Homo sapiens: one gene and its partners. The protein of the gene in region 6 purifies or fractionates together with the protein of the main gene of each other region. This does not show direct contact. Each region holds a gene or a part of one and is shown on either strand. Other genes may lie near its edges. The genes, in order: RPF2, CEBPZ, NSA2, MRPS31, RBM28, PDGFB and BRIX1.

The links.
Region 1: the proteins of PDGFB (region 6) and RPF2 purify together in Homo sapiens (affinity purification with mass spectrometry; 2 studies listed by BioGRID and IntAct, with this or other methods). This does not show direct contact.
Region 2: the proteins of PDGFB (region 6) and CEBPZ purify together in Homo sapiens (affinity purification with mass spectrometry; 2 studies listed by BioGRID and IntAct, with this or other methods). This does not show direct contact.
Region 3: the proteins of PDGFB (region 6) and NSA2 purify together in Homo sapiens (affinity purification with mass spectrometry; 2 studies listed by BioGRID and IntAct, with this or other methods). This does not show direct contact.
Region 4: the proteins of PDGFB (region 6) and MRPS31 purify together in Homo sapiens (affinity purification with mass spectrometry; 2 studies listed by BioGRID and IntAct, with this or other methods). This does not show direct contact.
Region 5: the proteins of PDGFB (region 6) and RBM28 purify together in Homo sapiens (affinity purification with mass spectrometry; 2 studies listed by BioGRID and IntAct, with this or other methods). This does not show direct contact.
Region 7: the proteins of PDGFB (region 6) and BRIX1 purify together in Homo sapiens (affinity purification with mass spectrometry; 2 studies listed by BioGRID and IntAct, with this or other methods). This does not show direct contact.

The regions. Positions count from the first base shown.
Region 1 is NC_000006.12:110,984,607-110,988,882, reverse strand, and holds part of RPF2 (ribosome production factor 2 homolog), read right to left. Parts: intron 3,878-4,276; coding exon 3,745-3,877; intron 1-3,744. UniProt on the Homo sapiens protein: Involved in ribosomal large subunit assembly. May regulate the localization of the 5S RNP/5S ribonucleoprotein particle to the nucleolus.
Region 2 is NC_000002.12:37,214,593-37,218,868, reverse strand, and holds part of CEBPZ (CCAAT/enhancer-binding protein zeta), read left to right. Parts: intron 1-1,831; coding exon 1,832-1,885; intron 1,886-2,450; coding exon 2,451-2,553; intron 2,554-2,660; coding exon 2,661-2,729; exon of another isoform or gene 2,730-3,548; intron 3,549-3,916; coding exon 3,917-3,983; intron 3,984-4,276. UniProt on the Homo sapiens protein: Stimulates transcription from the HSP70 promoter.
Region 3 is NC_000005.10:74,769,858-74,774,133, reverse strand, and holds part of NSA2 (ribosome biogenesis protein NSA2 homolog), read right to left. Parts: intron 3,504-4,276; coding exon 3,324-3,503; intron 1,822-3,323; coding exon of another isoform or gene 1,762-1,821; exon of another isoform or gene 1,641-1,761; intron 267-1,640; coding exon 74-266; intron 1-73. UniProt on the Homo sapiens protein: Involved in the biogenesis of the 60S ribosomal subunit. May play a part in the quality control of pre-60S particles.
Region 4 is NC_000013.11:40,764,351-40,768,626, reverse strand, and holds part of MRPS31 (small ribosomal subunit protein mS31), read left to right. Parts: intron 1-1,593; coding exon 1,594-1,881; intron 1,882-4,276.
Region 5 is NC_000007.14:128,301,794-128,306,069, reverse strand, and holds part of RBM28 (RNA-binding protein 28), read left to right. Parts: 3' UTR 1-4,276. UniProt on the Homo sapiens protein: Nucleolar component of the spliceosomal ribonucleoprotein complexes.
Region 6 is NC_000022.11:39,227,577-39,231,852, forward strand, and holds part of PDGFB (platelet-derived growth factor subunit B isoform 1 preproprotein), read right to left. Parts: intron 4,252-4,276; coding exon 4,046-4,251; intron 2,653-4,045; coding exon 2,508-2,652; intron 1-2,507. UniProt on the Homo sapiens protein: Growth factor that plays an essential role in the regulation of embryonic development, cell proliferation, cell migration, survival and chemotaxis. Potent mitogen for cells of mesenchymal origin.
Region 7 is NC_000005.10:34,921,738-34,926,013, forward strand, and holds the end of BRIX1 (ribosome biogenesis protein BRX1 homolog), read left to right. Parts: intron 1-479; coding exon 480-550; intron 551-801; coding exon 802-851; intron 852-957; coding exon 958-1,031; intron 1,032-1,263; coding exon 1,264-1,314; intron 1,315-1,395; coding exon 1,396-1,497; intron 1,498-3,109; coding exon 3,110-3,238; intron 3,239-3,488; coding exon 3,489-3,758; 3' UTR 3,759-4,259; downstream 4,260-4,276. UniProt on the Homo sapiens protein: Required for biogenesis of the 60S ribosomal subunit.

The DNA of each region.
Region 1 (4,276 bases), on a different chromosome or scaffold from region 6:
CTTACAGTAACTTGAAATGTAAGCTTAATATTCTTGGACTAGACTTTCCTATTTAAAAGTTTCTATGCCCTGTCAATAGTCTATCCAACTTAAACAATTTCCTTCATTTCTTTAAACTCGACTTAGTCCAGTCTCTCTCTAGGGAAACAATTCCAGGTGCAGTGGCTCACGCCTGTAATCCCAACACTTTGGGAGGACAAGGCAGATCACTCAAGCCCAGGAGTTCGAGACCAGCCTGGGCAACATGGCAAAACCCTGTCTCTACAAAAAACTGCAAAAATTAGCCAGGCATAGTGGTGCATGCCTGCAGTCCCAGCTACTTGGGAGGCTAAGGCGGGAGGATCACCCGAGCTCAGGAATTCGAGGCTGTGGTGAACCGTGATTGCACCACTGCACTCCAGCTCTGGTGATAGAGTGAGACCCTGTCTCAGAAAAAAAAAAAAAAAAAGTAGTAGACAAAAACAGAAAAAATAAATTCTATCACGAAAGGCTGACAGATTGAAATAATGTTGCGTGGAGATCAGAAAACTTAGAAACAGTAATAATGATGACAATTAGAATACTAGCCAGAGGTTAAACACAGCTCTTTAAAAAATGCCTATTATTCAATGTTCTTCATTTTTTTCCTAGTTCTACCTATCCACAAATAATCATTCATTTTATTTTATTTATTTATTTTTGAGACAGGGTCTCACTCTGTTGCCCAGGCTGGAGTGCAATGGCGTGATTAAAGCTTACTGCAGCCTGAAACTCCAGGGCTCAGGTGATCCTCCCATCTCAGCCTCCCAAGTACAGACACATGCACCACGCCCAGCTAATTTTTGTATTTTGAGTGGAGATGGGGTTTCACCATGTTGTCCAGGCTGTATTTTATTATTTTTTTAAATTTAATTTATAGAGATGGGGTCTCACTTTGTTGTCCAGGCTGTCATCCTAGGCTTAAGTGATCCTCCCACCTCAGCCTCCCAAAGTGCTGGGATTACAGGTGTGAGCCACCACACCTGGCCTATAATCATTTATTACTTGTATGGCCAGTACTGCTCTACCATAGAGAATAACAAAGATGTCATCAGGTACTACCTTGCATTAGAGAAATGGGTAAATGAGGGAAACAATGAAAAATAAGGTATAATAATCATTCATCAACTATCAGAGTTGGTGAACAAAGAAAATGCAACAGTAAAATCTACCTTTTTAAGTACTAAAACTTTTGATGATTCTTGGCCAACTATTTCCCTGTTTCCGTGTAATAAACATTGCCACCTCTTCTTGATGACTCAGAGTCATCATGATGAATTTTAATTATTGTAGTAATCTGTAATATTGTGCTGCTTTTAAAGCTTACTTAAATATGCAGGGTCATTGTGCTGATGGATACTAGAAGGAGAGGGGCAGTTTCCCGTTAGCACAATGAAATTCAGACAAACATTTCAAAAAAGGGATGGGCCTATATAAGGCATTCAGACATCTGAATTGACTATGCTTATCAGGCATAGAGTTTGGTCAAGTTTAAAATATATTCAAAGCCAGGCATGGTGGCTCACTCCTGTAATCTCAGCACTTTGGGAGGCCGAGGCGGACAGATCATGTCAGGTCAGGAGTTTGTGACCAGCCTGGCCAACATGGTGAAACCCTGTCTCTACTAAAAGAACACAGAAATTAGCTGGGTGTGGTGGCTCCCAGCTACTTGGGAGGCTAGAGGCAGGAGAATCGCCTGAACCCGGGAGTCAGAGGTTGCAGTAAGCCAAGATGGCACCACTGCACTTCAGCCTGGGCAACAGCGTGAGACTCCACCTCAATAACAACAACAAAAATGTATTCGATTACTTAATTGATTTAATTCAAAGATCTATTGGCTGTACTCAAGGCCTAATTAGTCAAATAACCTACTAGATATCTCCACATACTATGTCTTTTTTTTTTTTTTAGTTGGAGTCTTGCTCTGTTACCCAGGCTGGAGTAAGTGCAATGGCGTGGTCTCAGCTCACTCCAACCTCCATCTCCCAGGTCCAAGCAGATTTTCCGGCCTCAGCCTCCCTAGTAGCTGGGATTACAGGCGCCCACCACCATGGCTGGCTAATTTTTGCATTTTTAGTAGAGACAGGATTTCACCGTGTTAGCCAGGCTGGTCTCGAACTCCTGACCCCGTGATCCGCCCACCTCGGCCTCCCAAAGTGCTGGGATTACAGGTGTGAGCCACTGTGCCTGGCCCATACTATGCCTTTCTTTCATAGATTACATATATATTGAGTACCTACTATGTCCAGACACTGGGCTGTACACTAGGCTACAGAGGTAGAAAAAACAAAGCTTTTATTTTCATTACTTAAATTACATGTCCCAAACCGAACCTTTCACCTTTCCCTCCAAACCTGCTCCGCTTGATACATTTTCTAATTGGCATTATTGCCCATCAGGCACTCAAGCCAAACACCTGGGAAGTCATACTTTTCACTAGTTCCCAACTCTTCTTTCCTCAACATCTATTCTTTCTGGTCATTTCTCATTTTCATTGCCACCACTGGACTCCAGATGCTCTTCACCTAGCTGGCAGCAATGGCTTAGTTTCCTACATTTGCTCTCAACCCTCTCTAATCAAGCCAATTAAAAGGACTGATGGTATCTCTTGCTTAATATCTTTCAATGATTACACGGAGCTTTCAGATTAGAATTCAAATTTCATGTTACTATGTGACCCATGCCTCCTCTTCTAGCCTCATCTAGCCCACTCTCCTTTGGCCATGCCCAATTATTTACAGTTCTCCAAATGCATCAATGCTCCTTCATACTCCCTTTTGCACAAACTTCTTTCTCAGCCTCAGAGGATCTTCTCTTTCTCTCCCACTTCTTGCACCAACTTCTCCTTCAAAATGAAGCTGCAGTGTTATCTCTGGGGGAACCTACCCTGTGTGGGGGTCCCCCTATGTGATTTTTTTTTTTTTTTTTTGAAATGGAGTCTCTCTCTGTCACTCAGGCTGGAGCAGTGGCACAATCTCGACTGACTGTGACCTCCACCTCCCAGGTTCAGGCGATTCTCCTGCCTCAGCCTCCCGAGCAACTGGGACTACAGGCGCCCGCCACCACACCCGGCTAATTTTTGTACTTTTAGTAGAGACGGGGTTTCACCATGTTGGCCAGGCTGGTCTCGAACTTCTGACTTCGTGATCCTCCTGCCTCGGCCTCCCAAAGTGCTGGGATTACAGGCGTGAACCACCGTGCCTGGCCTCCCCTATGTGATTTTAACTGTTTCCCACCCTACCCTGTCCATGCCTCCAGCACAGCACAGTGTAAGAACTTTTTACATGTCTATCTCTCTAAGCTCACTGAAAGAACTGTGTCTCACCTATTAATTCCCAGCAGAGGCACAGTAACCGGTGTTGTTGAATGACTAAATATACAGCAATATGCAGTTACTTCTCTTTACAAATTAGATTTTTTCCTAAAATGTAAGTAAGCCAAATTCTAGTAATTGAAAACAGTTTAAATTTACTAAGGGAGACCTTCACTCTACCAGACCCACCTGTGCTCCTAAAAAACAATAATAAAATTTACTAAGAGAACTAGTTGCTTTAAGAAAAGGTGCCACGCAAGGTAAATAAACCCCCAACTTTAGCTCTTCTCTAAGACTAGTAGTTCTTATGGTAAGGCAAGCTTATCTACGTATTTCTCCGACAGCCCATCCTAGCATGCTGAAAATTCTAAAATGACTTCAATACCTTTTAAAGATTAAGTATATATACTTACCACATCTTTAAGTACTTTTGTCACTGTTGCATTTGCATTTCCCCCTTTAATCAGCATGGCATTTTTAATATTTTCATTGAGTTTCGGTTCTCTCTTCTCAAGGAATCTCTTGGCTCTTTTCGTTTTGGGCTTTCTGTTCAGAAAAGCACAATTCATAACTATTTAAACATTTTCCTCACATTGCAAAGCCATGACTTAACTAATATGAAAATTCTTAAAAACATATTTGTCACTTAGGGTTCCACCCTTAAAAAAAATCTCACTTTCTTTTTTTTGTTTGTTTTTTTTTGTTTGTTTTTGAGATGGAGTCTCACTCTGTCACCCAGGCTGGAGAGTGATGGCACAATCTTGGCTCACTGCAACATCCACCTCCTGAGTTCAAGCAATTCTCCTGCCTCAGCCTCCCGAGTAGCTAGAATTACAGGCACACACCACCACGCCTGGGTAATTTTTGTATTTTTAGCAGAGACAGGGTTTCGCCATGTTGGTCAGGCTATTCTCGAACTACTGACCTCAGGTGATCCGCTCACCT
Region 2 (4,276 bases), on a different chromosome or scaffold from region 6:
AAACGAGAAGGTTCTGTCACCCATACTGGAATGCAGTGGCGCGATCTCGGCTCACTGCAACCTCTACCTCCTGAGTAGCTGGGATTACAGGAGCATGCCACCATGCCCAGCTAATTTTTTTATTTTTAGCACAGACAGTGTTTTGCCATGTTGTCCAGGCTGGTCTCGAACTCCTGACTTCAGGTGATCCACCTACCTCAGCCTCCCAAAGTGCTGGGATTACAGGCATGAGCCACTGTGCCACCTGAATGTTACAAATTCTTGAGTGAATAAATGATTGATTCAAAGTAGACCAAATAATTTTAAGTAGCAAGTACCAAAAGCCAATTGAATATGGGTTTCAGATTCCATATTACAACTAATCTTTGGTTTTGGTATAGTACTAAAGAAGAAAATTCACAGCTATGTGAAAGACTATTTTCTACACATGAGGCCAGATTGTATGTTTCAACGTGGAATACAGAAGCAGATGAAATAATCCACTCTCTTCTGTTAAGCCAGACATTAAAGAGATTTGCAAAACTGTAAAGTAATACTACTCGCTATATATTTCGTCCTGAAGCATAATTATTTTTCTTTTTTTCTTTTTTCTTTTTTTTTTTGAGGCAGAGTCTTGCTCTGTCGCCCAGGCTGGAGTGCGGTGGTGCGATCTCAGCTCACTGCAAGCTCCGCCTCCCGGGTTCACACCATCCTCCTGCCTCAGCCTCCCGAGTAGCTGAGACTACAGGCGCACACCGCCACGCCTGGCTAATTTTTTGTATTTTTAGTAGAGACGGGGTTTCACCGTGTTAGCCAGGATGGTCTCGATCTCCTGACCTCGTGATCCGCCCGCCTCGGCCTCCCAAAATGCTGGGATTACAGGCATGAGCCACCTCGCCTGGCTGCATAATTATTTTTCATAAATATGCTACTTACTAGTATGTAGTAGCTTTATGGTTTTTGTTTTTGTTTTTTGTTTTTTTTTTTTGAGACAGAGTCTTGCTCTGTTGCCTAGGCCAGAGTGCAGTGGCGCGATCTCGGCTCACTCCAAGTTCCGCCTCCCAGGTTCACACCATTCTCCTGCCTCAGCCTCCCGAGTAGCTGGGACTACAGGCACCCGCCACCACGCCCGGCTAATTTTTTGTATTTTTAGTAGAGATGGGGTTTCACCATGTTAGCCAGGATGGTCTCGATCTCCTGACCTCGTGATCCGCCCACCTCAGCCTCCCAAGGTGCTGGGATTACAGGCATGAGCCACCGCGCCTGGCCGCTTTATTGTTATTTTTAATGGACCTATAAGTATTTACAATTTTTCTGTTTATTTTTATAACATAGGTGTCTGTAGATATAAACCTGTTGAATAGAAACTGATGGAATTTTTGGTTTTTAAGTGTAGGAAATGGTCCTGAGACCAATATGTTTTGAGAATCACTTTTTTAATGTATTGGCTTAAATTTCAAATTTTTGCATTTTCATTTTTGTTGTTGTTGAAATAGGGTCTCACTCTGTCACCCAGGCTGGAGTGCAGTGGTGCCATGTCAGCTCACTGCAGCCTCGACCTCCTGGGCCCAGGCAGTCCTCCCACTTTAGCCTCCTGAGTAGCTGGGAGTACAGGCACGCGCGCACCATCACACCCTGACTATTTTTGTACTTTTTGTAGACATGGGGTTTCGCCATATTGCCCAGGCCAGTCTCAACTTCTGGGCTCAAGCAATCTGCCTGCCTGAGCCTCCCAAAGTGCTGGAATTACAGGTGTGAGCCACCACACCCAGCCCGATTTTCTTAAATAAGCTATAAATGTACTAAGAGTCGACCTTAGAAATATTGATATTATTCACATTTTTCTTTTTAGTTATCTGTGCATTTTCATCCCTCCGTGGCCCTTTTTGCAAAGACCATCCTTCAGGTGAGTCTAAAATAAATCCAAAGATGAGAAATAAGAAAAAAAGTATCATTTTAGATAATCAATAATTGGTCATACAGTGTTTTCTCTAACAGAGAGAATCTTGTACATTTTACTGCTCGTATAAAGAAGCAGTGACTTGTTTCATACAGAGTAGCAGATAACTTTTCCCACTCTGAGATGAGTGGAAGCAATAAGACATTGAAAGCCACGCAGTTATTTATTTATTACCTTCTAGCTCCTCTCCTGGAGAAATACTGCCTCACTTTCCCATTTGCTGTGTTTGCCACTTCAGGGTTTGGTTCCTGATTAATGGTTAGATGGCCTGCATTATTAATATTAGTCTATCCATCAAATCAACATTACATCCTAGAATATGTATGTATATGTATCTGTGTGTTTAATTTTTTAAGTATAATGTGCATGAGAGAGATATTTGAAGAGTCATTTATTGCATATTTGTATCTTCAATACAGTGTAATAGAAATTATCTTTTTCTTCCTTTTTCTTACTTGGATTCATAGACATAATTTGAATTAAGTTTTTAAATCCCCGCTCCACTTTTCAGGGAAACTATATTCAGTATTCAGGGGACCCACTGCAGGATTTCACTCTAATGAGATTTTTGGATCGATTTGTATACCGAAATCCAAAGCCCCATAAAGGCAAAGGTATGCTTCTATTTAGTGAATTATTTGGCTTTCATTTTTAATACATAATAAACAATATGAGCTTATAACTAGGTTTTGCATTATACTGTCATAATTTTACATTTCAGAAAACACAGATAGTGTTGTGATGCAGCCGAAAAGAAAACATTTTATTAAGGATATTCGTCATCTTCCTGGTAAGTATAAACCTTAGACAGTTGAAACTGAAAAGACAATATAAGACAAAGATGCATAAATTGTATTATTCTTTGTTCTAATTTATCAGAATAAAACCTGAGCATCAAAGACATTATCCATCTTTTTTCCCAAGAATAGGTATTCTTAAATCTACTGTATCTGACTGGGCCTTTTTTTTTTTTTTTTTAACTTTATTACAGCAAATTTGAAACATATCCAAAATAAACAAAATAGTATGATGAACCCCCTCCCCATTACCATCACCCAGCTTTGACAGTTGTCACCATTTTATCATCCGTAGCTTCATCCACAACCCCTATGTATATAATTATTATTGCTTACAATTCAGACCATCTTAAAGCTCTCTAATATCAGCTTAGCAGCACAAAAACCCACAGCTGGTTTTGTCACAGAGCATCATTTTAAACTTAATAACCTACTTCTATATTTGCTAGCCATCTTCTGGATCTGAGTCTGTTGTTGTATTCAAAGCAGACATTTCTTTGCATACCAGATCTCATCTCCCTTTTGTTCAGAGACCAGGATTAAATTAGACCTTATAGATCATTTAATTTCCAGTGACTTACTTCACAGAGGTCCAGAGATGTAAAAGGACTTACCCACAGTTAGTAAGTTAGAATTAAAAGCCAAATCTCCTTTTACTCAGGATGAGTCAGCAATTTTTATTCTGAAGAGGTAAAACTGATTTCTTGTAGTTCCTTATTTCTTAGTTTTCCTCAGTATAAAGGAAAACTCTGTTAACTTCCTGTTTATTCCCAGAATGGCACGCATTAATGGCAAGCTTGTCATTTTTTGAGCTGAAAATGACAAGTTTAAAGTGATTATTTATTAAAATAACTCTTTGAATTTTTTATTTCTCTTGAAAGTTGGGTCCTGGATGCAAATGAAGAACAGTAAGAGAACCCTGTTGTTTCACTGTAACGGCACTGACAGCTATGTACTGCCTACTTTATGCTGTAGCCAGTGAAGTTTCAAATGTTGGGGGGGTCTTCACACAGACTTTTTCAGAGATTGTCCCTTGCACTCCAGAGTCCCTTCTGTCTACCTTCCCACACAATTCTGAGATTTTTAGAATTACAGATTATGCTGTATTTTGTCTTAAGAGCTTGAGTAACATAAAGGGGATTGCTATATGAAGTTAAAATGTTTAAATTTATTTTTGTAGTGAACAGTAAGGAGTTCCTTGCAAAAGAAGAAAGCCAAATACCAGTGGATGAAGTGTTTTTCCACAGGTACTATACATAATATAGTTTCATTTGGGGAAACTGCTAAAATTTAAATTTTTAGATTTCATAAAATGCTTCATTTTATGAAATAATCTACTTCAATAATCTACTACTGTGTGTAAATAGACCATGGAACATTAGTGGGAGAAGTGGCCTTAGTTTTAAATGCTTCATTTTATGAAATCTAATCAGCATATTTTGAAAAGATCAAAGGATATGTCTGTGTTTGTTAAGAAAATTTACAAATCCGTCATTTTGCTAATCTTAATATATCTTAGTAAAACTAAAGTAAATTTGGG
Region 3 (4,276 bases), on a different chromosome or scaffold from region 6:
AATACATCAACTTGAATAGTATTTCTATTAGTACTGCAGAACACAGCAGCCCTGTATTCAAAAATTCACTTACCCCAAATAACTTTGCCTCCTTGTGTCACAAGGCCCAATTCGCTCACATTTACTTCAATGACAGTACCTTTGGTAATAACACCCAAAGTTGTATACAGTGGGGATGAGGGATTCTTCTTTACACCAAGTATTGGTAGGCAAAAGGTGGCTTTCAGTTCAGGATGTGTTACATGGGCTTTCTTGAAACGCAAGCCCTAGTAAGTCAAACACAACATAAGAATGTTTACGTCCAAAATGTTAACAGTGATGAGTAGTGGTCGTTTTCGCTTATCTTTTTCAACCATCTCCAAAAAACTATGGTTGAATAATGTCATCTTAAAGAAGCTAACAAAATATGTTTTACAGAGTAAAAAGCTGATGGTTACAGTATAAATATGTGGGGAAAACACCCACACAAATACTTAAGAATTTCTTTTTCTTTTGAGACAGGGTCTTGCCCAGTTGCCCACGCCAGAGTGCAGTGGCGTGATCTTGGCTCACTGCAGCTTGGACTTCTTGGGCTCAAGACATCCTCCCACCTCAGGCTCCTGAGTAGCTGGGACTACAGGCACGCACCACCATGCCTAGCTTATTTTTTTTTTTTTTTTTTTTGGTAGAGATGGGGTTTCGCCATGTTGCCTGCTGGTCTTGGACTCCTGGGCTCTCAACGTATCCACCCACCTCAGCCTCCCAAAGTGCTGGGATTACAGGCCACCACAGCTAGCCTCTGAAAAGTTTTTTTTTTTTTCACCCTGTAATAGCTACCTAGCAACATACCCAGATTTTTACTGTCTAGTCATCTACACTTAGACTTACTAAGGACTTTATATATACCAGGCCACTATGCTAGCTCACAACTGGCTCACTTAAACACAATAACCTCACAACAAACACATCCCCTCTCCTCTGTTTTCAAATGATGTAACAAGGATCAGCAGGTTAAATGACTTGTTTCCAGATTAAATGGTGAGTGGTAAACAGACTCAAACCTTAATATCCTGATTCCAAGTCTTTATATAACTCGGCTACCTTCCATGATGAAAAAAGGAGTGGACTGTCAGCTTTCTTTAGGTTGATGGCAATATGAGACTGGAGGAGACCCAGAGGAGTCTTTGTTACAGAAACTGGTTATGGAGTCACCCAGTCACCTAATAAGGTCTTTTAGGGTGTAGTACTTTAAACGTCACAACATTTTGCAGTCTTCATTTTTGTGTGCATGGGGATGGGGGGAAAAAATCACTAAATCAGTTTCTTAGTAACAGACTCATTAATCAAGCTTGTAAGAAACTGACACCATTCAGGATGCCATCTGATTATAATGACAAATCTGTGAAACTACAGAAAACCTAGAATAGCCTGACTTGTATATTCTCTCCCTGTAGAACTGTTAAGGCTACCAAAATATATTCAGACTATGAATATGAAACCAAAACAAGTCGAGTCCATGATATAATCCGGGGTGGGCAAACATTTTGTGTAAAGAACCCAATAGGTAAACACTTTAGGCTTTGTCAGGCCATATGGCCTCTGTTGCAACTGCTCAATTCTAGGGGTAGGGGTTATGCAATATGTAAATGAACAGGCATGACTGTGTTCCATTAAAATTTTATTTACAGAAACAGGCTATTTGCCAATATTTTAATCTATTAAAAATTACTCACGTTGGCCGGGCACGGTGGCTCATGCCTGTAATTCCAACACTTTGGGAGGCTAAGGCGGGCGGATCACGGAGATCGAGACCATCCTGGCTAACACGGTGAAACCCCGTCTCTACAAAAAAATACAAAAAAATTAGCCGGGCGTGGTAGCGGGCACCTATAGTCCCAGCTACTCGGGAGGCTGAGGCAGGAGAATGGCGAGAACCCGGGAGGCGGAGCTTGCAGTGAGCCGAGATCGTGCCACTGCACTCCCGCCTGGGATACAGAGGGAGACTCCGTCCCAAAAAAAAAAAAAAAAAATTACTCAGGTTGAACACTAGGATTATGGCATGTTGCAACTTTCCTCTCTCTGATACTTTGTTTTTTTGAGGCTGTGTATCTAACTGGGAGAATAGTTCAGTCTCTTTGAAGGGATTTTGCAAAAATATATCTTCAACTATGTTTCTCCCCAGGGGTGGGGAAGTTTGGGGTCACATTACTATTGCTGCCTTCAACAGAAATTAAGCTATATTAAATTATCTTCCTTTTTTCAAAGATTTTCTTTTTCTTTTTTTCTTTTTTTTTTTTTTTTGAGACAGAATCTTGCTCTGTCCCCCAGGCTGGAGTGCAGTGGCATGATCTCCACTCACTGCAAGCTCTGCCTCCCAGATTCACGCCATTCTCCTGCCTCAGCCTCCCAGGCAGCTGGGACTACAGGCGCCCGCCACCATGCCCGGCTAATTTCTTGTATTTTTTTTTTTTAGTAGAGATGGGGTTTCACAGTGTTAGCCAGGATGGTCTTGATCACCTGACCTCGTGATCTGCCTGCATCGGCCTCCCAAAGTGCTGGGATTACAGGCGTGAGCCACCGCGCCCGGCTTTTCAATGATTTTCAAAAGCATTTAGATACTTTCCTTATCAAACTGGAATTGACTCTTATAAAACAGTCCTACTCAAGTTTTCGAACTGCTGTCAAAGACAAGAAGTGTTTTGAGACCTAGACAATATCAGGCATATTGTAGATCACTAGTTTAATGAGGAAAATATGACTGTGGAAAATGAAGATTCTAATATGTCATGTTTAAAAGTCAGAATTCACTGACAATGTCTTATGATACTACTTTTTCAAATCTCTCACGAAGCTGAAAAGATTTTTTTTTTTTTTGAGACGGATTTTTGCTCTTCTTGCCCAGGCTGGAGTGCAATGGCGTGATCTCAGCTCACTGCAACCTCCGCCTCCCAGGTTCAAGCGATTCTCCTGCCTCAGCCTCCCTAGTAGCTGGGATTACAGGCGCCCGCCACCACGCCCAGCTTATTTTTTGTATTTTTTAGTACAGATAGGGTTTCACTACATTGGCCAGGCTGGTCTTGAACTCCTAACTTCAGGTGATCCACCCACCTCAACCTCCCAAAGTGCTGGGATTACAGGTGTGAGCCACCGCACTGGGCTAAAGATTTTTGACTAGTGGAAAAAGTACTAAATAACTTCTGTCAATAAAATAACAAAAATTGCATAAAAATATCTTTCAACCTGTTCCACATCAATTTAAAGAATTTCAGGAAATGATAATGTTCTTTATCCGATTTAATAAAGTCAACTAACATTTCGGTCATTACACTCTTCCAAGGACTTACCATTGGCCTGATGAATCTTTCATATTTAGGTGGTTTTCTTGTAAAGCCATCTCCAACAAAGCACACTTTAGTAACCATTCTCTTCCATGCCTTCTTCTTTCTCTTTCCTGTTCGAATAACTTTTAATACTTCTGTTTCTCCCTGGGCACGTACTTTAGGCAGAGGGACTTCCCATTTTCCCTAAAAATATGCCACAGTTAAAAGTTTATATTGTTATTAAAGGACAATGAGAATAAGTCAAATATGTTTTAGTTGTACAAAGTAATAGATCTATTTTTTTTGCTTGACCATCAACACATTTTTGGCTCAACCGTCTTCTAGAGGTCTGTATTGTCTCATAAGCTGCAAATTAAACAGAACAAGTTTATATATCATGGGTATGTTAAATAAATGGTTGGCTTAAGCTAAAAATCTTAATGCTGTGTTATGGGTGAGAAAATACCACCTGTAATGTGGTGGTTTTTTTTTTTTTTTTTTTTAGATGGAGTCTCGCTCTGTTGCTCAGGCTGGAGTGCAGTGGTACAATCTTGGCTCACTGTGCAGCCTCCGCCTCCTGGGTACAAGCAATTCTCCTGTCTTAGCCTCCCGAGTAGCTGGGACTACAGACACACACCACCACACCCAGCTAATTTTTGTATTTTTAGTAGAGGTGGGGTTTCACCACATTGGTCAGGCTGGTCTTGAACTCCTGACCTCAGGTGATCCACCTGCCTTGGCTTCCCAAAGTGCTGGGATTACAGGCGTGAGTCACGGTGCCCAGCCGATAGTGACTTCTATAAGCAGTATATGTGTTTACTAATGTTTAATAGCATAATACTGGAAGAGTGTTTCCACCTCTTAATATGTCTCTGTATTTCTTCCCGAGATGGATCTGTAGATCACTAGCAAGACAAAATCCTCACCAGATGTTTTATGCCTCCCTTGAGTGCAAATTCTATGAAAAAACTGAAATA
Region 4 (4,276 bases), on a different chromosome or scaffold from region 6:
TGAGCCTAGGAATTCAAGCCTGGGCAACATGGCGAAACCCTGTCTCTACAAAAAATTAGTCCCAGTTAGGAGGCTGAGGTGGGAGGATCACCTGAGCTCAGGGAGGTCAAGGCTGCAGTGAGCTGAGATCACACCACTGCACTCCAGCCTGTCTGACAGAGTGAGGCCCTGTCTCAAAAAAAAAAAATTTTTATGCATATTAAAGACTTCCAGGGGATTTAGCGGGGTGATGCCTGTTGGAGGTCAGTGCCCTCCTAGTTGGGGGGTGGGGGCTAAGCTTAAAGTTTGAGAAGCAGTGCTGTAGCACGTCAGCTTCATAAAGGCAGGGACCATGAAATTCTTATTTACTAATATATTGTCAGTACCTAGTATAGTGCCCACCACAGAGTAGATATTCACTATATTTAGCAAATAATTTTTTAATATACCCTCTTACTGAAACTAACACATTCAGAGTTTTGAAAATTCTTCAGTAGTCAAATACCAAAACAAATTTTTAACCCCACAGAATAAAATTGGATATTTGGATTACTTAGAATTAGGAAATCTTTTTGCATGAGTCTAATATAGATGTAATCATTTGTGTTGTTCTTTTTCATAAATGTATCTAGTGAAGAAAGCACAAATGACATTTCTAGCCATTGATTATTCTCTTTTCTGTTCCATTCTAGCTTTCCTTACAAATGGTTATGGGTTAAGTAGCATGTAGCTCGATGACAATGTTGATCAGATTAGATAACACCCACTCAGAAAGTTTTTTTGAAATAATCTTTTTTATTGATAGAAATTTATTTTTGTATTGTTTAATGATAACTTTTAAAGAGGTATTGTGTTAAGAGCAAGGACTTGCAGTCAGTCACATTTGGGTTTGAGAATAATAAATTGTCATTTATTAACCATGTCAGTGTTTTTCTACCCAACCCTGGGGTAAATGGAGGGAGGGAACAGACTTGGGAGCACCAGCACCCCCAGACCTCCCCTGGCCACCCCAAGGACCAAGTGATCAATATCTCAGCACACCTCTACTTATTTGTGGCACACAGTGTGTTTTAGTTCTTAGTGAGCTGTGAGCTACATGACTTTGGGACTTCTCTGATTTTCAGTTTCCTTATCTGCAAAATAGAGACCTTAGGGAGTTAATGTGGGTATGAGAAATGTAAATAAAGTATATTTCACAAGATGAGACATGTAGTATATGCTAATAAATGGTAAGTTGCTGCTGTTATGGTTGTTAACAATAATTATAAAAAGAGACCAGCCTGGCCAACATGGGGAAACCCCATCTTTGCTAAAAATACAAAATTAGCTGGGCATGGTGGCACATGCCTACAATCCTAGCTGCTCGGGAGGTTGAGGCAGGAGAATTGCTTGAACCCTGGAGGCGGGGTTTGCGGTGAGCCAAGATCGCGCCATTGCACTCCAGCCTGGGCAACAAGAGCGAAACTCCGTCTCAAAAAAAAAAAAGCAACGGAAAGGGCTTGAATTGAAAAAAAATCTTAGATACATAGTTTTTTACTTTATTGTAAGTAAGTTTTTTACTTTATTGTAGACTGCATTGTATTTTTCATTTTTTTCTTTAATGCATCTTTCCAGGACAAAAAATAACATCCAAAGATATTTTGGCACTAACAGTGTGATCTGTAGCAAGAAAGATAAGCAGTCTGTTCGAACTGAGGAGACTTCCAAGGAGACTTCAGAGAGCCAAGACAGTGAAAAGGAAAATACGAAAAAAGACTTGTTAGGCATTATTAAGGGCATGAAAGTTGAATTAAGCACAGTAAATGTACGAACAACAAAGCCCCCCAAAAGAAGACCACTTAAAAGTTTGGAAGCTACACTTGGCAGGCTTCGAAGAGCTACAGAATATGCTCCAAAGAAGAGGTAAATTTAATTGTAATTCAGATGTTGTTTGAAACTCCAGTAAGCTTTTTGTTTTGGTAAAAAATATTTTTAATACAAGTACTTGGGAAATGTTGAATTAATGAAGAATAAATATCAGCTTGTAAACACAGGGACTCTAATAATTACTCGAGGCTGGGCATGGTGGCTCACACCTGTAATCCCAGCACTTTGGGAGGACGAGGCGGGCGGATCACTTGAGGTCAGGAGTTTGGAGACCAGCCTGGCCAACATGGTGAAACCCCGTCTCTACTAAAACTACAAAAGTCAGCTGGGCATGGTGGTGCGTGCTTGTAATCCCAGCAACTTGGGAGGCTGAGGCAGGAGGACTGTTTGAACCCAGGAGGCAGAGGTTGCAGTGAGCCAAGAATTGTGCCACTGCACTCCAGCCTGGGGGATCAAGCGAGACTCTGTCTCAAACAACAACAACAACAAAATAATAATTACTTGAGAAATGCTGTTATTGTATTATATTTAAATAACAAGAGGATATCTGTACACAATCCAGAGAAAGGAAAGGAGAAATGATCTCATTGAGAATTTCACACACTTACATATTTATCAGTGTTATTAACTGCCATGTAATTGCCTCTTTAAGCTGTTAATTAACAATATCATTTACATCTTGATTTGAAGGTAGCTTAATGTCTGTAAAGGACTTGCTTATTTAAAATTTTCCATTTTAAAGATTTCTGGAATAAAGTTTTAGCATGTTGATTACAATTGCTTTATATGACTTCCCTTGATCAATACCTATCAGTGCTTTCAGCTTTCTTGGTAGTTTCCTCAGAGTATTAAAATTATTTGTGTTTGTCAAAAGAGTATTATATTTAATTCTAAATGCAATCAGTGATACTTGGCATTGTGTGGTAGGTTAAATGGCAGTATTTTTTTTAGTGCTATGTAATGATGTATTTCAATGATGTCATTAATTCAAGTAGTAAGCTATGTGGCTTTAGGATACTCATCACTGACTTCTGTTACCAGAACAAACAGATTTTAATAGTCTTCTGTTTCCCAAACTGATTTAACATTTTAATGGAACTTCTTGGTTTCTACGTTATATCAAAAATACCTCTAGAAAGTATGATTGGGTAGTAGAGTAAGCTAATTCAGACTATCAGTACCCATAATAGGTACTTCCTCCTCCTCCTCCTGCTTTTAGAAACAAAATGGTTATATATAAGTATATGGAAATAAATAATACAAACATATATAAATACTTTTCAAGAATGGCATTTTTAAAGCTCCTAGACCTGTTTATGATCCATCATGCTCTTTATTATAATTATAATTGAATTAACGATTACAGAAATGGTAAAGTGAGTTGAATGCTTTGGAAAGAGTCAGTAAAGGTCATTTAAAATTTTTCTTTCCAATTAGGTATGAGTGAGGCAAACATACATGTGTGGGAAGATCATACACTTAGATTGCTTTGTAAGCTTTCTTACATTCTTGCTCCACTTTTCCACTTAAACTGAAATTGAAAATACTGGAGGATGGGTGTGATGTATATAAAAGATGTGTCTTAGAACCTCTATTAGTGGTCCTATGTTCAAAGAAGAGGCTTTGGTCCCACATCAAAAGACTGGTGAATGAGGTACATTTGTTTTGAGTTTTAAAAAGGTGTCTTTTAATGATTTTTTCCTCCCCTCCCTCTTTTTCAAGGACTCCAAGGTGCACGGGATTAGGTTAGTCATGATCTTTGCTTCATGAGACACTGTCATCATTGCTTCATACATAGACTGCTTTTCTTTGTTTGTATTAAATATTGAACCTTCATTGATATGGTTACCATGGCTACACTACCTCCCAAACTTAGTGGCATAAAACATTCATTCATTATGCTCACAGATTCTGTGGGTTAGCGATTTGACTAGAACACAGTGGGGGAAGGCCAATCTGTGCTCTGTGATGTCTGGGGCCTCAGTTGGAAGACTTAGAAGTCTGAGGCTGGAATTGTCTGAAGTTTGCTCACTCATAGGTCTGGCAGTTGCTGCTGGCTGTCAGCTGAGACCTTATTAGCAGAAACACCTACATGTGGCTTTCTTTGTGGGCTGGGCTTTATCCCTGCATGGTGGCTGGGTTCCAGGGCGGGTGTCTCAAGAGAAAGTGAGCCAAGAGAAAGTTGTATTTTCTTTTTAATGACCTAGCCTTGTAATAAGATTGGACATTACCGTGTTTACCCTTGTTCCACATTGATTTTCCTGGGATATTTGTTTTTATCACAACCACTCCTGAGAAACAATCTTGACAAAGATATAATGTCATTGATAGGAATGGAGCAATATACAGTTGGTCCTCTGTATGTGCAGGTTCTGTATCCACAGATTCAACCAATTTCTGATTGAAAATATTAAAAAAAAATACAATATAA
Region 5 (4,276 bases), on a different chromosome or scaffold from region 6:
CAAGTAGATCATGAGCCACTATAAGAACTAGCTCCCATAGTCCCAGCCCCTGGGCCTGGTACATGGCAATGCTTAGTGATTGGTGATTGAGGATAATGGTGGTAAAGGATGTACCAGACAGTCATCTCCTGAAGAGATGCCGAACAACCTGTCCTTGTTTTATGTATTTTCTCTTTCTTTCCTGTCCAGTTTTATTCCTCTCATAGTAACTGCTAAAAAAATATCAGTTCCTGTCACTCTTCCACCCCTTTTCTCCCTCTCCCCTGCATTGTGGTCTGGGCCTTGGTCCACTAGCAACTCCCCTTAGGTGTTGCTTAATCTGCCTCATGGCCAAAGCCAATCCCATTCCTGTCCCCCGCTACCCAAGGGACTCCCAGTCTGTATGCACAAGGCGGGATGTGAAGTCTGGATGTGCAAGAAACCCAGCTGTAAGAAACAGCTTCCCTCGGCTTGGCATGGTGGCTCATGCCTATATTCCCAGCACTTTGAGAGGTCAAAGTGGGAGAATCACTTGAGCCCAGGAGTTCAGGACTAGCCTGGGCAACATAGCAAGATCCCACCTCTACAAAAAAAGAAAAAATTCAGAGTCTCAAATGTCCCTTCATCTCCTTACTCTCGACCTGTCTCCCTAGTTCTCTGCCGCCTTTTCCTCTCCCCTGGATCTGACACTCAATTGTCTGCATGCACTTTTCAACTGAAAGAGACTCCAATGCCATCCTTCTGATGAAATTTTTGCTTTGGATACTACTGCAGAAAAAATGCTATCTTGTATTCTGGTCCATGGTGGGGAAGACCCTGTCGTAGAACCTGGCAACTCAAGTGGAGGGAGGGGCCAGAACATTGTTCTTATGCTATTTACAGTGAGACAACAGGATTGATGCAGAACTTTCTTTTTTTTTTTTTTTTTTTGAGACAGAGTTTCATTCTTGTTGCCCAGGGCTGGAGTGCAGTGGCATGATCTCAGCTCACTGCAACCTCCACCCCCCAGGTTCAAGCAGTTCTTCCTCAGCCTCCGGAGTAGCTGGGATTACAGGCGTGCGCCACCACGCCCCACTAATTTTTGTATTTTTGGTAGAGACGGGGTTTCACCAGTGTTGGCCAGGCTGGTCTCGAACTCCTGACCTCAGGTGATCCACCCACCTCGGCCTCCCAAAGTGCTGGGATTACAGGCATGAACCACCGTGCCCGGCCGTGATGCGCAACTTTCTAATAACATACTTTTGAAAGTGCCCAGACATACATCCCTCCTCTGGTACCACAGTGGCCATCAGTTGCCAGAGAACATGAAATTATCCAGCCCTCAGCTCTGCAGCAGGATTCTGAGGAGTAAAGCAGGCCTGTAAAGTACTCTAAAGTACTTCAGAGAGGTAATGCCACAAAGCGAAGAACACCTCTTGGAGGCAGAGCCCCTCAGCCCTATCCAGGCCAGCAGTGTCCACTTGAAATCTGAAAGCAGCCTCCCTCACCAAACCAGCAAGATGGAAAACCTCCCTGGGTTGGCAAGTGGCCCTGGGAAGTACATGCCCCATCTCTGTCAGGATAGCAGTGGAGAGGTTTCGTGCCAGTGCCAGCTCCACCCACCCAGATGGTACTCAAGACTCCAAGCCTGTCAATGGGGTGGAAACTTTCTGGCATTTTCTGTCAGAAGGGTGAGTTAGCACTGAACCATCTCATGTGTCTTTTCACTGAGTAACAGCCCATATCCATTCCATGAAATGAGTGACTGCTTTGTTGAATCAGATAGTAACAAACATTTATTTGTAGTCTGGTTGTGTCATATCATGGTTGAATTGCAAACAGGTTGGATAGAAGAGTCAGCAAAAATCAACAAAAGCATTCTGTAAAAAACTTTTCTAGAATTACAATAAATGGCATTGTATATTTTATTTATAAATTATGTGCTGCACATCATTTTTATCAATGAAATTTATAATAAATTTCTGTACATATATACATTTTTATCCCAGAGAGCCAGTTGTTAAGCATTTACCAGCAATAAATGCTTTTTGTTTCCTGCTTACACAGGTTCTGGGAGTGGCCAGCCCACTCTTTGAGATGTCCCCACTTGCTTTTTTAGTTGTCCAAGTAGTGTTCTGCCCAGCCTTCCCGACTCTCTTTCTTATCCTTCCCTCGAAACTATTCTGTTCCTTATGCTTAAATACTTTCCAGTCATGGGAGCTTTGCTGTAGGCCCTTGGCCTTTCATGGGTAGCTTCTGATACGTGCATGGGTGTTAATAGAGGAAGTTGACCCCGCCTGGGAAGAATAATGACCTATGGAGACCTGGCCCTTTCTCTTATGGCTTCTTAAAGTGACAGCTGTTATGGGAAGTTCAGGCATCTTGACGTGGAAAATACATTGTTCATTTTCTTTTAATTTTTTTTCCCCTAACCACTATACCAACAGGGATGGAAAGATACTTTTAGTTGGAAGGAATTTGGAGCCCTTAAACGACACCTGGAGCAGCTGCCTGTGGGTGGGGCTTTGCACAGTCTCATCCTGGCAAGGGAGGACGAGCCAAGGACCAGTTTTGCAGAATTGTCATCATGAGGCCCTGGTTGTGTGCTGGGCTGGGGCATTGCCCCTTTCCAGGAGGCCAGGCCAAGCAGGGCTGCCTGGCTTAGGCTTTTGCATCTTCAGCATCCTTTCACGTCTCTTATCTCAGGTGACCTTCACAGCAAGCCTGGTGAAGGTTATTGAGAAGCAGATGTCACCACCTAGTCTTAGAGCTGATGAAAGCAGGATGTGGGGAAGTCCAGACCCTCTCCTGAAACCCCTTGGCCACCTGAGCTAGTACCAGAGCAAGGTCCCACTTGGCCGTGAGTGCTGTCTCTAGGGCCTATTTCAGGAACTGTCTCATATATAAGAACAGAACACTTTTTGCCAGCTATACCAAATGTTTTTGGGATTAAAAAAATAGTTTCTCTTTTCCAAATTAGGTGGTAAGAAAAGGAAGGGCATTTTCATTCTCACATTCTTTGAATGTTGAAACGTTTTAAAAACTTCCAGCTGGGCTTGGTGGCTCATACCTGTAACCCCAGCACTATGGGAGGCTGAGATGGGAGGATCCCTTGAGGCCAGGAGTTCAGGACCAGCCTGGGCAACATAGTAAAACTGCCCAAAATTTGAAAATTAGCCTTGTGTGGTGGTGTGCACTGTAGTCCCAGCTGCTCGGGAGGCTGGGGCAGGAGGATTGCTTGAGCCCAGGAGTTTGAGGCTGCAGTGAGCTATGGTTGTACCACTGTACTCCAACCTGGGCAACAGCGTGATACCCTGTCTAAAAAAATAATAAAAATAAAAAAGGATTAAACCCTTTACTTGACCAGCTTCTTTTCCTGCTACCCCTGGACTAACTAATCATTACATATTTTTGTAGTTGTTTTTTCTTTCTTTCTCTCTCCTGATCTACCACAAGCCAAATGTACTCATATACATACTAATAGGTGAAAAAAGAGAGTCTGAGGAGTGAATACATTTATTTTGTGATTTCCTAGGCAGTAGCTAGGACTCCCTTAGAGGTTGCTAATAGGGAAAGGGTGCGCTGGCTCTACTCAGTTTTATAACTGCTTTTCCCCGAATTCTGCAGACATCTTCATTCCCCTGGAGGTCAGATAATGGCTATTTATTTTCCATAGCCATGAAAATCTCTGGGGAGAGCTGTGGCAATTTGACGAGAGCTATTAAAGGGACATTAGGATTGAAGTAGCTGCTCAGGCAGTCACATACCCTCGATCCTCATCTGCAGGGACAGCTGCCAGAACGAATGAGCCCAGCTCTCCTGCCCGCAGCCAGCCGCGTGTGGGTGCAACTGGCGACCAGCCACTGGAGTGAGTCCCAGGGAAGGGGACAGGTTCTTAGAATCACCATTTGTCTCTGCTCTCTCCCTCTCTGCAATAGGACGGGCACTCTAAACTCACATAATGGTTAATAACAACAGCTAACAATTACTGAGCACCTACTATGTGTCAGGCATGTGCTGAGGATGATCGCATCAAGTAAAATGCCTGTCTCTGGCCCAGAGGCCCAGAAGAAGAGAAAGAAGGGAAATCTGTAGGAGGCAAACAGTCCCTTACCCCTCTGCTTGCAGACCTTCAGTGACAGGACACTCCCTGTTTGCTCCAAGCACCTCTTGCATTTTCAGAGCTTGGGACACAGATTCAGGGACTTGCACTTCGATAGAGTGCCTCAGGACCCCTCGTCGGAGCCATGGAAAGTCAGTTTCTGGGCCCATCCTTCCTGTGGGGGTGTCTTTCCTTCTCTTGGCCACCCCCTAGGAA
Region 6 (4,276 bases):
TGAGGAAACTGAAGCAGAGAGACTGGGATTTGAACTCAGGGATCTGCCTCTAGAGTGCACACCTCCAACCACTCAGCACAAACGACAGTGCCTGTGAGCCTCAGTCAAGGGGAGCTCTTATACACTTCTCTCCGTCCTGGATTCCCAGGTGGCCACCCTGGCAGGGACAGCTGTGTCTGCTGAGCTCAAGGCCAGCCATTTCCTGGGAGCCTTTTGAGCTCTCCCAGCCTACCGGGATCTGACACCTGACCTCCCACCTTACAGACACCAGCTCCCACGAGGCAGCTCTCCCATCTCTGCAATTGCGCAGATTTTCTAGCAGTTCAGGGACTTGAATGGGCTTCAGATCCCCTCAGACAGAAGACACCAGGAGGGCCACTGAAGGGCCCAGGGAGTTTCTTCCCCAGAGCCTGGGCCATCAGCAGGACACTGGGCTATACCAAGCCCAGGCAAGCACAAGGTCACCACACAGCTCAAGTGACAACACGCAGATCTGAGCCCAGGAGGTCTGACACTGACCACATTATCACAGAGAGCCACACTACCAAGCCTTAGCCAGGCCCATGGACAGGTGACAGAAACACCGTCATACTCAACCAAAATACCGGAACTAAAATGATGGGACTTTACATCATCTACGTTTCACTGGTATAATGCGCCTCCCAAGAAACTGGTTTAGAAAATTACGTCAAACAAATACATGAAGTAACTCACTCTAAACATAAAGAAGGCCAGGCGTGGTGGCTCAATGCCTGTAATCCCAGCACCTTGGGAGGCTGAGGTGGGAGGATCACTTGAACCCAGGAGTTAGAGACCAGCCTGAGCAACGAATCAAGACCTCATCTCTACAAAAACTTAAAATATTAGCTGGACGTGGTGGCACATGCCTGTAATCCCAGCTACTCAGGAGGCTGAGGAGGGAGGCTCGCTTGAGCCCAGGAAGGAGTTCAAGGCTGCAGTGAGCTATGATCATGCCATTGCACTCCAGCCTGGGTGATGGAGAGAGACCCTGTCTCTTAAAAAAGAAAGAGGCTGGGCGTGGTGGCTCACGCCTGTAATCCCAGCACTTTGGGAGGCCGAGGCAGGTGGATCACTTGAGGTCAGGAGTTCAAGACCAGCCTGGCCAACATGGTGAAACCCCGTTTCTACTAAAAATACAAAAATTAGCCGGGTGTAGTGGCATGTGTCTGTAATTCCAGCTACTCGGGAGGCTAAGGCGGGAGAATTGCTTGAACCCAGGAGGTAGAGGTTGCAGTGAGCCAAGATTGTGCCACTGTACTCCAGACTGCGTGACAGGGTGAGACTGCCTCAAAAAAAATATATATATATATAGATATATATAATTTTCCCTTAATAGAGAAATCACCCTCCATATTAACTCAATAATTTACAACATGTCAGTTTGAAGCTGTCATATGATCAGCCTTTCCATGGCATCCAGCGACTCAGCTCAGCTCTGGGAATAAGACACAGATGCCAAGAAATGGCTCCGTCTTCAGGGTCTTGTTAATAAGAAATGAGAATGAAAAGATTGTCCTGTCCCTAACAATAGAAAGTTACTGAAAAAGAACTATCACTTACGTGATTTTTTTAAACGCTCATCTAATCGTATTAATCATTTTTTTTTTGAGGCAGGGTCTTGCTCTGTTGCCCAGGCTGGAGTGCAGTGGTGCCATCACGGCTCACTGTAGCCTCGACATCCCAGCCTCAAGCGATCCTCCCACCTCAGCCTCCTAAGTAGCTGAGACTACAGGCGTGTGCCGCTATGCCTGGCTAATTTTTGTATTTTTTGTAGAGATGCCTCACAATGCTGCCAATTCCACCTTGCACCCCTGACTGATCACCAGCTAGCTGTTCTGCATATGGAGCTGAAATCTCTCTCCAGTGGCTTCTCCCCACTGGTCCTGGTTCCCCCGCTCAAGGATACGAGAAATTCGTTTGATTTCTCATCCCCAGGACAAGCTGCTCACTATCGGAAGTTGATGTGCGCGGAGCTTTCTCTCATCCAGGCCCAGATTCCTTCCACCATCCCATCCCCACATCCAACAAAGCAGGGGGCTATGGTAGCAAGACTGGAAATGGCGCTGCTCTGGATGGGGTGGTCAGGGCAGACTTCTAGGAGGAGGTGACTTCTGAGCTGAGACTCTAATGAAGAGAAGGAGCTAGGCTTGTGGAGAGCTGGGAGAAGTGTTCTTCAGCCACAGCAGTGTGTGCTAAAGCCTTGAGGCAGAAACTCCATTAGTTACTGAAAGAGGCCTGCCCGGCGGGGGTGGCACAGGTGAAGGGTACTGGTTGGCAGAGACCAGAGAGCCAGCCAGGGGCTAATCCTCATGTAGGGCTCTCAGGCCAGGGAGGAACCTGGCTTGTGTCTCAGCAAGATGAAAAGAAAGCCTCCCGTGAATTTAACCGGGGGCGGGCCTGATCCCATTTCCATTTTTAAGACCGGCCCCTGCCCCCAGCTGCTGCAGGGGAAGGGGGCTGAGGGCTGAGCCTGGAAAGGTGGTTACCTCGCTGCTCCTGGGAACCCCCCGGGCTTCGGGTCACAGGCCGTGCAGCTGCCACTGTCTCACACTTGCATGCCAGGTGGTCTTCCAGCGTCACCGTGGCCTTCTTAAAGATTGGCTTCTTCCGCACAATCTCGATCTTTCTCACCTGGAGGACAGAGCCACAAAATGCCTCTGTAGAGACCACACAGCCAGGAGCCCGGGAAGCCCGAATGGCTTGCGCTTCCCACCCCGGTGTCCCCTGCAGCAATCTTTCCTCGAAAGCCCGGAGAGCAGGCTGTGGGGCAAAAGCTTTGGCCCAAACAATAGCAGGACCTTGACCTCTGCCCTTCTCGTAGCTTTTCCATCAAAACAAGCCCTCCCGACCTGGGGCCCCCCTCAGTGCCCCCAGAGAGGGACAGCCAGAAAGGCATTTCCGGGTTGAGCTGGGGCCTGCGGTATCCTCATTCCCGGAGCGCCAGCCAAGGTCAGGGCTGCGGCAGAGGCGGGAGATGGTTGTCTGGAAGGAAGTGGGGGGAGGCTTCATCTAGGAGGGAGGTGGGAACGGGGAGGTCAGATGTCAGGTGTCCATCCATAGAGCTGGAAGCATCGAGGACAGGAGATACCACGAGAGTGGGCAGTGGGGTGGAGTGACATTCGTAGTCTCAGGCGTGGGGCCCAAGCCAGGGAGGGAAGGTGGGCAGGAGGAGAGGCCACGGGCTGGTGGCAGGAGAAGGAAGTGCGGCTAAGCAGGCAGAGCATCGGGCAAGGGCCGGTGCTGAGCTAGAGAAATGCGCACTGCCCAGCCTGTGGGCGAGGCTGGCCTGGGGCGTGCAGGAATCTTTCCACAAGAAGCAGAAGCAGCAGCTTCTCTGACTCTGCCCCGACTAGGGTGAGACCAGGGTGCTCCCTGAGACAGCCTCTACTCTAGAATTTTCCCTGAGTCCAGTGTATGTATCCCCCGTCCCTCCGAAGAAAAGCAGGATCAGCATTCCACTGTTGTCAGGGGACCTGCCCCAGCTCCGCAGTGTCTATCACCTGGTGGGCCTCTCTGCACTCTCTTTATTAAAGACACAGCTTGTCAAAGAGAGACAAGCAGGTGTCAAAGATGCAGGGCCACCCATCTGAGCCTTTCTCAAGACAGCCCTGAATAGGGAGAGCTTTGGGGGAACCTGAGTAGCTCCCCAAAACATTCTGAGTGTCAGATAAATGTTTGCGGATACGGCTCTTCAAGGGACGTTTTGCGATTTTGTCCTTGTAAAGGAGGTGACATCCCTACTTCACGTTGGCTCCACACCTCGCCCAGCCCGGGGGGTCTGTCTGTGGCTTTTGGCTACAGTGGCCTGAGCCACCTCAGAGGACTCATGGTCGGCCTCAGTCCACCTGCCTAGGAAGAGCTTCCCAAGAGTGGGCCTCTCTGGACAGAGCCCAGGAACAAATCAGGAATGTCCTTCGACACACCACTCTGCCCAGTCAAGGAAGCCTGGTCAGGTATGAGCCCCAGAAGGGTGGTCTCCACCCACCACCGGGACCAGCCTCGGGGGGCCGCGGAGCCTACGCACCTGGACAGGTCGCAGCTGCACCTGGGTGGGGCGGCACTGCACGTTGCGGTTGTTGCAGCAGCCGGAGCAGCGCTGCACCTCCACACAGGGCGGCCACACCAGGAAGTTGGCGTTGGTGCGGTCTATGAGGCGCCGGGAGATCTCGAACACCTCGGTGCGCGTCTTGCACTCGGCGATCATGGCCGGCTCAGCAATGGTCAGGGAACCTGGGAGGAGACGAAACCTGGGTCA
Region 7 (4,276 bases), on a different chromosome or scaffold from region 6:
TCTACTAAAAATACAAAATTAGCGGGGTGTGATGGCACAGGCCTGTAATATCCCGGCTACTCCGGAGGCTGAAGCAGGAGAATCATTTGAACCTGGGAGGTGGAGGTTGCGGCGAGCCGAGATCGTGCCATTGCACTCCAGCCTGGGCAACAAGAGCGAAACTGCATCGCAAAAAAAAAAAAAAAAAAAAGGAGGGAGGTTTCCAGTAATCAGAAGTGAGACCATTTTAGATGCTAGGCCCAAAAATATGATAGATAATTTCACCCAAGATATGGGCAGAGCATCTAGTTTACCTTGGGTAGAATACCTAAGAGGAACTTTAAAGGTTCCTTCTGTGAATAAATACATGTTTAGGCCTTTGTAGCCTATTAGCCTGGTTAGGTATTTTTGAGATAATCTGGATGATATTAATCACATATAATTACTTTAGTTCTCATTTATATTATCTACTTCATTTTCCTATACTTTGCTTCCTTTAGGTTTGTGAAATGAAGAACTGTAATAAATGCATCTATTTTGAAGCTAAGAAAAAACAGGATCTCTATATGTGGTAAGAGAATGTATTAAGATTTTGGTTAAACTCATTTAAGTGGATTTGTTCTTTGTACCTTTTATGTTATAGACTCCTAGTGTTTCATGTTAAGGGTTGAGAATGAAGCAAACTTTTGATTTCACGAAACTTGATACCTTTAAAGAAAATTAAATGTATAAATATTATAAGCATATTATTTATGGTGAATAGGTGGTAAGCATTGACTACATTTGCTAATTAGTTGAAAAAGCTTACTCCATATCTTTCAGGCTTTCAAATTCACCTCACGGACCATCTGCTAAATTCCTTGTTCAAAATAGTAAGTTGACTCAATAAATTTTTTTAGATGAGGAAATTAAAAGTAATCTTTTGAAATAGTTGTGCAAAAGTTACAACTATTTTTGTTTTTGTTGTAATTTTTCTAGTTCATACCCTCGCTGAACTGAAGATGACTGGAAACTGTTTGAAAGGTTCTCGGCCCCTTTTGTCTTTTGACCCTGTAAGTTTCTCATTCAGTGTATGAGGTCTAATTTTCTTATCTGGCATGGTTGTTTTTAGTAGATATAGTTGTGTTATTCAATTTAGTTTCACCCCCACCTTGGTTTTATGGATTATCAATTCTTTCAGGTACATTTATAATGAGGTTATAGCCAAGTTATAGAAACAAATGAGCAAACAGTTTTAAACAAGGCAGTCTACTGTTAAATAATATGCTTACCTTATTTTTATAGGCTTTTGATGAATTACCACATTATGCTTTGTTAAAAGAACTCTTAATTCAGGTAAATATCTTTAAAATTAGCTATCCAAAATATACATGATATATCTTGGAATAAGGAACTAACATACACTTTTTTAACTAGATCTTTAGTACACCACGGTATCATCCCAAAAGCCAACCATTTGTGGACCACGTGTTTACTTTCACCATTTTGGATAATAGGATATGGTTTCGGAACTTTCAGGTAAGCTTTACTTGATTTTTAATTATACCTTTTTTTTAATTGAGTTTATTTATTTATGTTTTGAGACAGAGTCTCGCTCTTGTTGCCCAGGCTGGACTGCAGTGGCACAATCTTGGCTCACTGCAACCTCCACCTCCCGGGTTCAAGCTTCTGCTCCCTCAGTCTCCTGAGTAGCTGGGATTACAAGCACCCATCATCACGCCTGGCTAATTTTTGTAGTTTTAGTAGAGACGGGGTTTCGCCATGTTGGCCAGGCTGGTCTCAAACTCCTGACCTCAGGCCATCTGCCCGCCTTGGCCTCCCAAAGTGCTGGGATTCCAGGCGTGAGCCACTACACCCGGCCTAATTTTTTTTTTTAGAGATAGAGTGTCGCAGTGTTGCCTAGGTTGGCCTTGAACCTCCTGGCCTCAAATCATTCCTCCTCAGCATCTTGAGTAGGTGGGATTGCAGTTGTGAGCCACTGTGCCTGGTCAATTTTTAGTTAAACTTTTAGATAAGGATATACAGGGTTTGCATACACAAAAAATGCAAATAATTCTTTTGTTTTAAATAGCTTCCTTTTCCCTAAAGAGATTGCTGCAAGTAACTATGTACTGTCTTATATCTTAAGTGAGCTCTACCTACTTCTATTCATGACTGTTAGTTGATACAGAGTATGGATTTCCTAATAAGCCATTATATATTTAACTTTATAGAAAGGGAATAACTTGAAGATCCATGAGATACTTGGGTTCCTAATTTGTAGAAAGTGCTGTAAAGGATACAGTAAAATAGAAGTTTCTCTCTCAAAGCTTAGAAGTTTCTCTCTCAAAGCACCTCAAAGGTTAAGACCTAGCAAAATGTAATTGCTCTAGAAGGCATTCAATGGCAGCGGTTAGATGATGAGTCACACAGTGACTCATTCAGGAGAAAAGAGGAGGTGACTCTAGAAATCTTGAAGCAGGAGTTTGGCACGATAAGTGCAGAAAGATGAAGAGGTGGAAGAGAACAGCAAGAACAAAATTTTAGACAGTATATGACATAAACTGAGCTCTTTTCTGCATATTTTATATTGGATACCTGGCATGTGAGTTGAACACATCATCCTAACCTCTGAGGGTAGACATGCCTGAACTAATAGATAACATAAATATTTGTTGTTCGGAAGTTGCCTTTTAATTCCATAATCAGTAGCTATTAAATAAATTTGACTACATATCCTTTTAATCTAACTTGAATTAGATTTATAAAAACAATTTAGGGATTGATTTAAGTTTCAAGAGTTCCCCCATAATGTGCTTTAATACATTTTGTTAATAGTGGTTACTGTTTTAAAATCCTGTTTAACCAGTTTTTCAAGGATATATGCATTGTGACAAGCAAGATGTGAACCAAAATCTAATTACTCAATTTTAAAAGAACTCACTGAAAAAACATTTTTCCATGACAACTTCCTATAAGTACTAATAGATTTCAGAAAATATTGATGATTTGCCATTTACCAAGTTTCACCCCCACCTTGATTTTATGGATTATCAATTATTTCAGGCACATTTATAATGAGGTTATAGCCAGTATACCTTTTGGGAATAACGTAACCAAACCAAAATGAAATGTTTCCTTTTTATTAAAGATCATAGAAGAAGATGCTGCTCTTGTAGAAATAGGACCTCGTTTTGTCTTAAATCTCATAAAGATTTTCCAGGGAAGTTTTGGAGGACCAACTTTATATGAAAATCCTCACTACCAGTCACCAAACATGGTAAGCGGTTGTGTCATTCAGTAGTCTTCAATGTACCAGAACCCTTTGGCCAAAATGATTCTGTGAAGTAATTGCTGTTTTATTACCTGTGAAACTGAATTTGGTTTTTGCTGCATAGAAACTTGGAAATTACTCCCTTTTTTCATGACACTGGCTGAAAGGATATATGGTTCATAACTGAAAGTCTTTGCCTTATATAAAATGTTTATTTTTATTTCAAAAGCATCTAATCTTTTTTTTTTTTTTTTAGCATCGGCGTGTCATAAGATCCATCACAGCTGCAAAATACAGAGAGAAACAGCAAGTGAAAGATGTGCAAAAACTGAGAAAGAAAGAGCCGAAGACTCTTCTTCCACATGATCCCACTGCAGATGTTTTTGTAACACCAGCTGAGGAGAAACCAATAGAAATACAGTGGGTAAAACCAGAGCCAAAAGTTGATTTGAAAGCAAGAAAGAAACGGATTTACAAAAGGCAAAGAAAAATGAAACAGAGGATGGACAGTGGGAAAACAAAATAAGTCAATGGAAACCTGATTTGTTTTTCAGTTACTTTATATTTATTTTGTATTCAATGTGTAAATACTTTTATTATCTAATACTATCTTACGTCTAATTAGTGTAGCATTTACAAGAAAGAAAAATTAAGATCTTAAAATCAGTGATTATCTTTTTCTAAATAAAATATCACCAGAATTCATCAGTTAATTTCTGATTTCTTTTTGAAGTTTGTGTTGCTAAAAATGTAGCACACTTAATGTAGCCTGTTCTCTTGGGTTGGAATTTTTGGTTTAGCAAAGCTGAAATTCAGACATTTATTAGGTCATATTATTTGTAAAAGCATTCAACACTTCAAGAGCATCGGTTGTGGATGGTAAAGTAGGAGTAGACTGGTAGAAAGGAAGGCATCTCACTGAAGTTTACTCAGTCATCAGTTAATGAAGCCATGGAAGAACCAACCCCTGATCTGTCACTTCAAAAAAGAGTATATTAAAATGTTGAGGTTTTGAGAATCAAATGCATTAATGGCTGTGTTGAA